Linked DNA regions of Homo sapiens: region 2 is linked to region 1. Evidence: fine-mapped expression QTL. A gene starts in region 1. The other region holds a variant in brackets. All regions are shown on one strand. Distances are from middle to middle.

Region 1 (4,000 bases):
TTCCTACTAAAGTGGCCAAGCGAAAATGTCAACCCAGCTAGTGGGCCCACCTTCACAGTACTTAGACTGTGCATCCTTTAAAGTGCCCTTAACTAGGGATGGTTTCCATGAAAAGCATACAGGTTTTCTAAACGATGCAGTTTGGTTAATTGCATAGCTTACATGATTGTGTGAGGGTTAATTTCTGGGGTGTGGTTGCATTGAAGACTTCAAGTTCCCACGACCTGAACAGAATTTTGGCTTCTTTCAATACAAAGTGGCATCTGGAATTTTAGCTCTGTGTATGTTGATGTTGGGCCCCTAATGGGTTTCTGTGGGAATGCACCCTCAAAAAGGTTGCTCTGATTGGACTGGAGAGGGTTTACTGCTCATCCTGTCATTTTAACCTTTGTCATTTCCATACTTTTGAAGTCTTATAAGTCATCCAGATTCATTAATTCAAAGGGAGTTCCTCCCTGGTAGTTGGAATGATAGGTCATTTTTTTCAAGGACCCAAGATCGGGCTGGGATAGGGATGGCAGTGTATCTGGATGAAGATAGGAGATAAACAAAGCCAACAGTCCTTTGCCAGAGCTGAGCTGGTGGTATTTAACAGTCTTTGCATTAAATTTAAAGTTCTTAATAAATACCCAGAATCTATTAATTGCCAGAGGGGTAAAGTGAAGCTCTGTTGTAAAATAAAGCTGATTCCCTGTATGCGGTGTCCCTGTGTATACTGGGTGTATACTGGGTGTCCATTATGGAACAAAAAAAAAATACTTATTTGCTATTTTGTTCTATAGAATGGGAACTTCAGGGGGTGGATACCTGTGCTGTCAGGAATGCTAGTTATAAAAATGAATTAAAACACTTCATATATTACAAAGGAAGTGATTCCATCTATTTGGACGAAAGCAATTAAACTGCAAAAATATAAAAAATGGCAACTATTATTCAGTCTACAGTAACTATGCAACAAAGACACCAAGGAAAGTTGGTAGGCATTTACGTATCTCACTTAAAACAAGTCTATAAAGTGGTTTATTTTAAGAAGGGTACATTTTAAGAAGGACAAAATCAAAAGCATGGACAAGTGTTGGATGAGCTGATGAGGTTGTGGCAATTTACTTTGTGAATACTGTGAGAGTTTGTCCAACTCGCTGTGCTTAGGTACTAGATGGTGAGGATTTAAAAGGTCAATGAAGTCACAGCAGACCAGCACTCAAACATATTTCTCTTCTATTTCCTACTTTTGAATAAAAATGTCAGAAGTGGGCGGTGGGAAAGGAACAAGCAAAGGAGTAATTATTTGAATAAATTTTTGGCGAAACGTGGGTGTCTGACGGGGAGGCTGTGCGGTGGTGACCAACGCACCCATGCGCTGGGTTTCACAGATGCAGACTGAAGTCCAGGCTCTGCTGCAGATTAACGGGGTGGCCGCCAGCAAGTCAAGTGACTTGCTCTTCTGTGCACTGCATGTACTTGGGTTCCTCTCACAGGTATTCCTGTTTTTCCTCTTTCTTGCTCCAGGTTACACCTCGTGGCGCGGCGCTCTCGGAGAGCCTGTGGAGTGGCCCTGTGTCCCTCCCTGACCCCTGGAGGATTCCGTAAGGTCACAGTCACCGCCTCCATCCCCTACTTGCCATGTCTTCAGGGCTAATGCATAACAATTATCACAATTTACAGCAGCCCCACGCTCTGAAGAGCTTCTGGAGGGGATACTACTCAAGCGGAGGAAGGCAAGACAGGGACCTCCTCCCTCTTCCCGGACCTCTTCTGATAAGGAATATTTGTAGGTGGTTAAGAAAGGCAGCGGGAGGGCGTGAAGGCAAAGACAAGCTTTTTTTCTCGTAGGAACACACATCTTCTGGTCTGGCTGTGTTTCCGGAGGCATTTCCAGAGGACCTAGCGAGGACCAACTTCCGGCTGCGACTTCCGCGTCTTCCGAGTTTCGAGACCTGCTGCTTCCGCCCGGAGTTGTTGTGGGCTCCAGCAGCGAGTAGCCACTTCCGCTAGGAGTCCCTAGCGGCCAGGGCGTGGAAGCGGATTCTGAGGCGGCTTTCTCCTACTGCCCTCCGCTTGCCAACGCGGGACCCGGAGCCCAACGGCAGCGGCGGTCCTTGGGCCTGTGGAGAGGGGTTCTCTGTGGCCGAGTCCTAGGCCTGGTGAACCGCGCGGTGCGGGAGAGGCGCTTGGGCCTCGTCCAGCCCCAGCCCCTGTCTCCCCGCGGCCGGTGCCGGCGGCTGTAGGCCTCGCCGCGCCCACCCAGCCTGGGGCGGGCCCAGCCTCACCGCCCGGCCCGCCCCGCCCCACGGGCCAGCCCCGCGCCGGGTGTTTCCGCTACTTCCCTGCGGCGGGGTAACCGCCTCGCACCTACCGGGCTCGGTTCCCTGGCTCCGGCCGCGGGGGAGCATGGAGTTTGCGGAGCTGATTAAGACCCCGCGGGTGGACAATGTGGTGCTGCACCGGCCTTTCTACCCGGCTGTCGAGGGCACCCTGTGCCTGACGGGCCACCACTTGATCCTGTCCTCCCGGCAGGACAATACGGAGGAGCTGTGGCTCCTCCATTCAAACATCGACGCCATCGACAAGCGGTGAGTGCCCGCCCCACCCCAGCTCCGCAGGGAGCCGGGGGTCCCTTGTGGGCGCCCCGGGAAATACTTCCTGGCGTTTTCCGCGCAGCCTGCCGCCCAGCTAGCCGGCAAGATGAGCCCTCTGTGGCCTAGAATCAGGATTTACCAAGCTGAAACCCGTCCAGATGGAGGACCCGGTTTCCATTAAACCTGGATGGAGTTCTCAGGGTTATCGTGTGGCTGGTACCATCCTGATGATCATTTCTGGTTCGTAACACCATTTGGGTGGATTTTCGGCATTGTCTTTATAAATTTCTTCTTCTTCTTGCCCCATCGTATTCCTTGAATTGGTATTGTCAGTCACCGTTCATGAAGTGATTGGATGTGATTTAGGTAAAGTCTTTACCATTTCTGAGGAAAACTAAACAGATTATAAAGTTATGAGTGTCTACATGCTACAGAACCATTTTTTTAATTTCTGAAAAATGTTCAGTGTATCATATTATTTCTTACCTTCTGGGTCATCAAAATTTAATTCTCACTAAGGGAGATTCTGATGTCTTCTCTTCATCTTTACTCAATTCTGCTTGCTGAAAGAACAGGGTTGGCTCTCAAGGAAAGGCATGGACCAGTTAACCTCTTTTTTCTTTTTGTACTCCAGACTTTATCTTTCCAAGGCAGTGCCTCGAAGTCAAAAAGTTAAACTTTCATCTGCATTCAAAATTCCCATCTCCTTAGTGGCTACTCGCTAGCCAGGAGAGGGCAAACTGATTATCCGTTTTACACAGAAGTATAAATGAATGACGACAACATTTTCTATTGCCTCACAGGATAATTTGGATATTAGGAAGATTCGTACAGAGGATATGCCTTAAAATAATAATCTCTTTCTTTCTTTCTTTTTTTTTTTTTTTTTTTTTTGGAGACGAAATCTCACTGTATTGCCCAGGCTGGAGTGCGGTGGCCAATCTCGGCTCACTGTAACCTCCACCTCCCAGGTTCTAGCGATTCTTCTGTCTCAGCCTCCCGAGTAGCTGGGATTACAGGCACGCGCCACCACACCCGGCTAATTTTTGTATTTTTTAGTAGAGATGGGGTTTCACCATATTGACCAGGCTGGTCTTGAACTCCTGACCTCGCAATCCTCCCGCCTAGGCCTCCCACAGTTCTGGGATTACAGGCGTGAGCCACTGCGCCTGGCCTAAAATAAAAATTTCTAATGGTAGAATTGCAGGCAGTTTGGGTGAAGCCATGGTAGATTGATTGATTGATATGAGCAGGGGGCTCTTATTAGTCTCCTCAAGCCACCTTTTGCTGTATAAAGTCTTCAGTGGGCCCGGCACGGTGGCTCACGCCTGTAATCCCAGCACTTTGGGAGGCCAAGGTGAGCGGATCACCTGAGGTTAGGAGTTTGAGACCAGCCTGACCAACATGATGAAAGCCCGTCT
Region 2 (4,000 bases), 31 kb after region 1:
GATCTTCTATCCAGACCACTCGAACTTTGTCCATGTGAGCAGTAAGGCTGTGTCACTGTATCATTTATGTGTTCGCTGGAGAAGCACTTTTAATTTCCATCAGGAACTTCTCCTTTGCATTCACAACTTGATTAACTAGTGCAGGAGGCCCAGCTTTTGGCCTGACTCAGCTTTCGACGTGCCTTCCTCACTAAGCTTAATCATTTCTAGCTTTTGATCTAAAATGAGACATGCTACTCTTCCTTTCATTTGAACACTTACAGGCCATTGTAGGGTTATTAGTTGGCTGGCCTAATGTCAATATTGTTGTGATCCCTGGAATAGAGAGTCTCCCTGAAGAGAGAGTCAAAGGAACAGCTGGTTAGTGGAGCAGTGAGAACACACACAGCATTTGTTGATTAAGTTCACTGTCTTATATGGACGTGGTTCCTGATGCCCCCAAAACTTGTAGAAGTAACATCAAAGATCACTGATCACAGATCACCATAGCAGTTGTAATAATAATGAAAAATTTTGAAATATTGTGAGCATTACTAAAATGAGACAGAGACACAAAGTAAAACATGCTGTTGGAAAATGGGTGCCAGCATACTTAATTGACGTGGGATAGCTGCAAATCTCCCATTTGTGGAAAATGCAGTATCTGTGAAGAGCAACCAAGGGAAGATCCATGAACGAGCTATGCCTGCAACTGTTATTATCCTAGTTCTGAAGATGACTTACAAACATGGAAGGATACGAGTGTAGAATAAGAGTGAGAATAGAGGAAATTGCCTCGTATTAAAGCTCTATGTAGTGTATATGTACATGGGTAAAAACTGACAGTAGTAACCAAACCCGAAGCTTTTGTGTGAAGTTGGTGGTTTTTATTTTTTCCAAAGTTTCCTTCATTGTTTCAACAGAAAGGGTAGAAGAAGGGGAGGGGAGAAGATGTAGTAAATTTAGTTTTGGTGTTTTCTTTCATTCTCTTTAGAATAATGGGGTCCCAGACACTTCTGAGTCTCATGATGCAGTGGTATCTTTACAACTGACTTTCTAGATTGACACTTTTATGTTTGTTTTTTTTCCTGTTGTCGTGTTTCTCAAAGTGTGGTCTAGGTCTCATTTTCCAGATTGAATTACAGTTTATGAAGGTGTCCTTATAGTCAGCTGATGGTGGAAAGGTAGAGTCAAAGTCAGAAAAATAATTTTAGTGTATGTCTATAGTTTTGATGAGAAGAGGCTTTAACCAACGATTAAAGCAGAAAGGGTAAATGCCTTCTGTGTTAAGAGCTGCTTTTTGGTTTTGAAAAGGGAAAGAAAAATTCAGCTAAAAGGTTCTGTGAAATTTGTTATAACTTAAAGAGGTCTTGCCATGTGAAATTTGAGATTCATTATAGTCGTATTTTTTCCCAAGAGAATCTTATCTATCGTATGCCTTAGATTTAGATTTAGATTCTGAACTCTACAAGTCAGAGCAGAATGTTGTACTCAATACACTAAATAAACTGAACTCAGTAGACTAAAATGTTGTGCTCAATAAACGCTTGTTATTAACAGAGTTCATTGACCATGTTGGACA[T/C]TTCCCATTTGTACTCTTCCCTGATTTTCCTATCAGGGAAGGAGCATCAATATTGATTCACGGAACAGAAGGAACTGATTCCACACTCCAGGTGACCTCCTTGGCCCAGATCATCTTAGAGCCAAGAAGCAGGACCATTCGTGGTTTTGAGGCCCTGATTGAAAGAGAGTGGCTGCAGGTGAGAAGAGCTGTTTGATTCACAGAGGAACTGCTTATTGATGCTGTGATCCTGCTTTGTGTGGTAGCTGACATAATGTGTGAAATTTCGATTGATTAAAATTTCTAAGTTGTGTGTTTAATTTACTGCAGGACAGTTAATCTGTCTTCTCCTTGTTTCTGGATGTCTCTTTGCCTGTATTCCTCACTTGACACTTCCTTCACTTAGGAAACTCCTGTTGGCTGTGCTTTATCACATACAGGAGAAATACAAAGAATGGGAAGCATAGTGCAATCTCCCAGAAGCTGGGTCTTGACGGATCAAAGACATAAGCAGTCGGGGAAGGGGGAGTGGGGCCTGTAGTTGCAAGGAAAGCGCTTTAACCCTTTCAAAGCCTTTTGCTCGTGCTGCTCCACCCTGTGAAGCTTCCTTCAAAGATAAAACTGAATCATGTAATGTTGGATGGCTGCCAAAATAAAAGTCTCACTCATAACAGGGATTGATATCCTCCACAGAGATTACTTTTCAATATATTTCTACTGTGTAAGCTGGTAAATAATTGTATTTGAACACAAATGCTTACATATCTTGAAAGCAGACATTTTTCTGGCAAAAAGAGTATCTTGCTCCTCTGGTTACAATTCGCATTTATCATGCACTAATGCTGTTACGTACACCATGTCCACCCTGCCTGACAACTGACCTTACCTCTGTTTAAGTCAGACCATACTAAGTTTATGCTCCATATTTGATGAAAGTCTATTGAGCTATATTCCTCATGATGCATAGTAGACAAACAAATGAGTATGACTGACTGATTTTTATGTTATTTTAATGGATATCACAATTCTGTGAACCACTGTAAAATTTCTATGTCATTACCTTTGTCACATACAGTAGTAGAAGGACCCAGAGACAAAGCAGATCTGTGAAATTCCTAGCAGAGTATGATTTGTATTAAGGTCAGCATTTGGGTTCTGAACAAGACAGTCAAATGAGTCTTAAATTTACTTTGGTCAGTAGATGGCAGACTCTTGCTGTTCATTTTGGGAGAAGAGGGTAATTAATGACAGCTTTATCTCCTGTAGAAAAGTACTCATAAAGATCTTTCAACACAATAACTTTTCGTATATAATTAGAGATTTACTATCAGAGCTGACATTATAAAGGTGATCAGAGTTCCATATCTGTCTCCACTTAGGGTGAGGCTTGTTTAGTGTACAGCACAATCTACAGTGTTAGACAGAGGTGATGATTCTTCTTTGTACTGAGAGCTTATGTTCTTTGACTTTGCTCCAGGTTTTGTAGACCTAGAAAGGTTTATTTTGTAAGTTTATTATTGCTTAAGTTCATTATTCTTCCATGGGATATTCCAAGGGCAGTGCAGTTCCTGTGGTCACACCTTAGCCGCGCAGCCTCATTAAGGATTTGGAAGTGTGTCTTTTTCCTTAGTTGCTGCCGCTATTTATTTTATACCAAGAAATCATTAATCTGTACAACAGCTACCCTAATTATATGATGTTCCAGGTACTAGGAGTGTCACTGTAATTGTGTATAGTGGTGTCGGTAGAATGCTCTGTCATGTGATCTCACCAGGATATGACTGTCACGCCTCCATCTTCCCCCTAGGCTGGTCACCCATTCCAGCAGCGCTGTGCACAGTCAGCCTACTGTAACACCAAGCAGAAGTGGGAGGCTCCTGTATTTCTTCTCTTCTTGGACTGCGTGTGGCAGATCCTTCGTCAGTTTCCCTGTTCTTTTGAGTTTAATGAGAATTTCCTCATCATGCTCTTTGAGCATGCTTATGCCTCACAGTTTGGAACATTTCTGGGCAACAATGAAAGTGAAAGGTGAGTACACTGCTCACATGGGGACCTTTCCTTTTCCGTTGTTTTGGCTACTTCCTAAGTAGCCAGAATCTCCTAGGAGACGACGATTTGGATCTATATTAAAATTATTTATAAAAAGGTAGAGGCTACAGTTAATTATAATTTAAATGACCTGAAGTATATTCTTTTATGAGAGCATGTCCTAGACTTTGTTCTGTTAGGTTAAAATTAGTCCATACGTGAATTAAGGGGCAACCATTTTAAATGTTAATTTCTTAACATAGGATCATAGTATCTTACATGTGGAAAAAGCCTTAATTTATAATTCAGGTCTTCCCTCTAATTTTATTAAGAAAGTAAGATCCAGAGAAGTTACGTGACTTTTCCCAGGACATAGAGTCAGTTGGTCATCAAAAGTGTGGCCTAGAGCAGCGATCCCCAACCATTTTGGCA

Evidence for each region. PIP is the estimated chance that this variant, and not a neighbour inherited with it, causes the effect.
Region 2: its variant is the best candidate, but not a certain one, in a credible set for the expression of MTMR9 in lung (TOPMed, PIP 0.63).

What each region holds. Positions count from the first base shown.
Region 1 is chr8:11,282,498-11,286,497 of GRCh38, forward strand. MTMR9 (myotubularin related protein 9) reads left to right here and starts at 2,319. Exons shown (of 10, transcript NM_015458.4): 1 at 2,319-2,573. The coding sequence starts at 2,392. It overlaps LINC00529 (long intergenic non-protein coding RNA 529), which reads right to left and starts at 1,534. Exons shown (of 5, transcript NR_170283.1): 1 at 1,354-1,534. RefSeq lists enhancers at 1,288-1,377, 1,468-1,527, 1,803-2,304 and a silencer at 1,998-2,407.
Region 2 is chr8:11,313,326-11,317,325 of GRCh38, forward strand. MTMR9 (myotubularin related protein 9) reads left to right here. Exons shown (of 10, transcript NM_015458.4): 7 at 1,598-1,739; 8 at 3,348-3,568. MTMR9-AS1 (MTMR9 antisense RNA 1) reads right to left here. Exons shown (of 2, transcript NR_189628.1): 2 at 2,534-4,000. Among named protein-coding and RNA genes, the nearest start is that of MTMR9-AS1, 10 kb to the right of the region's middle. The variant T/C (reference allele first, on the strand shown) is at 1,562.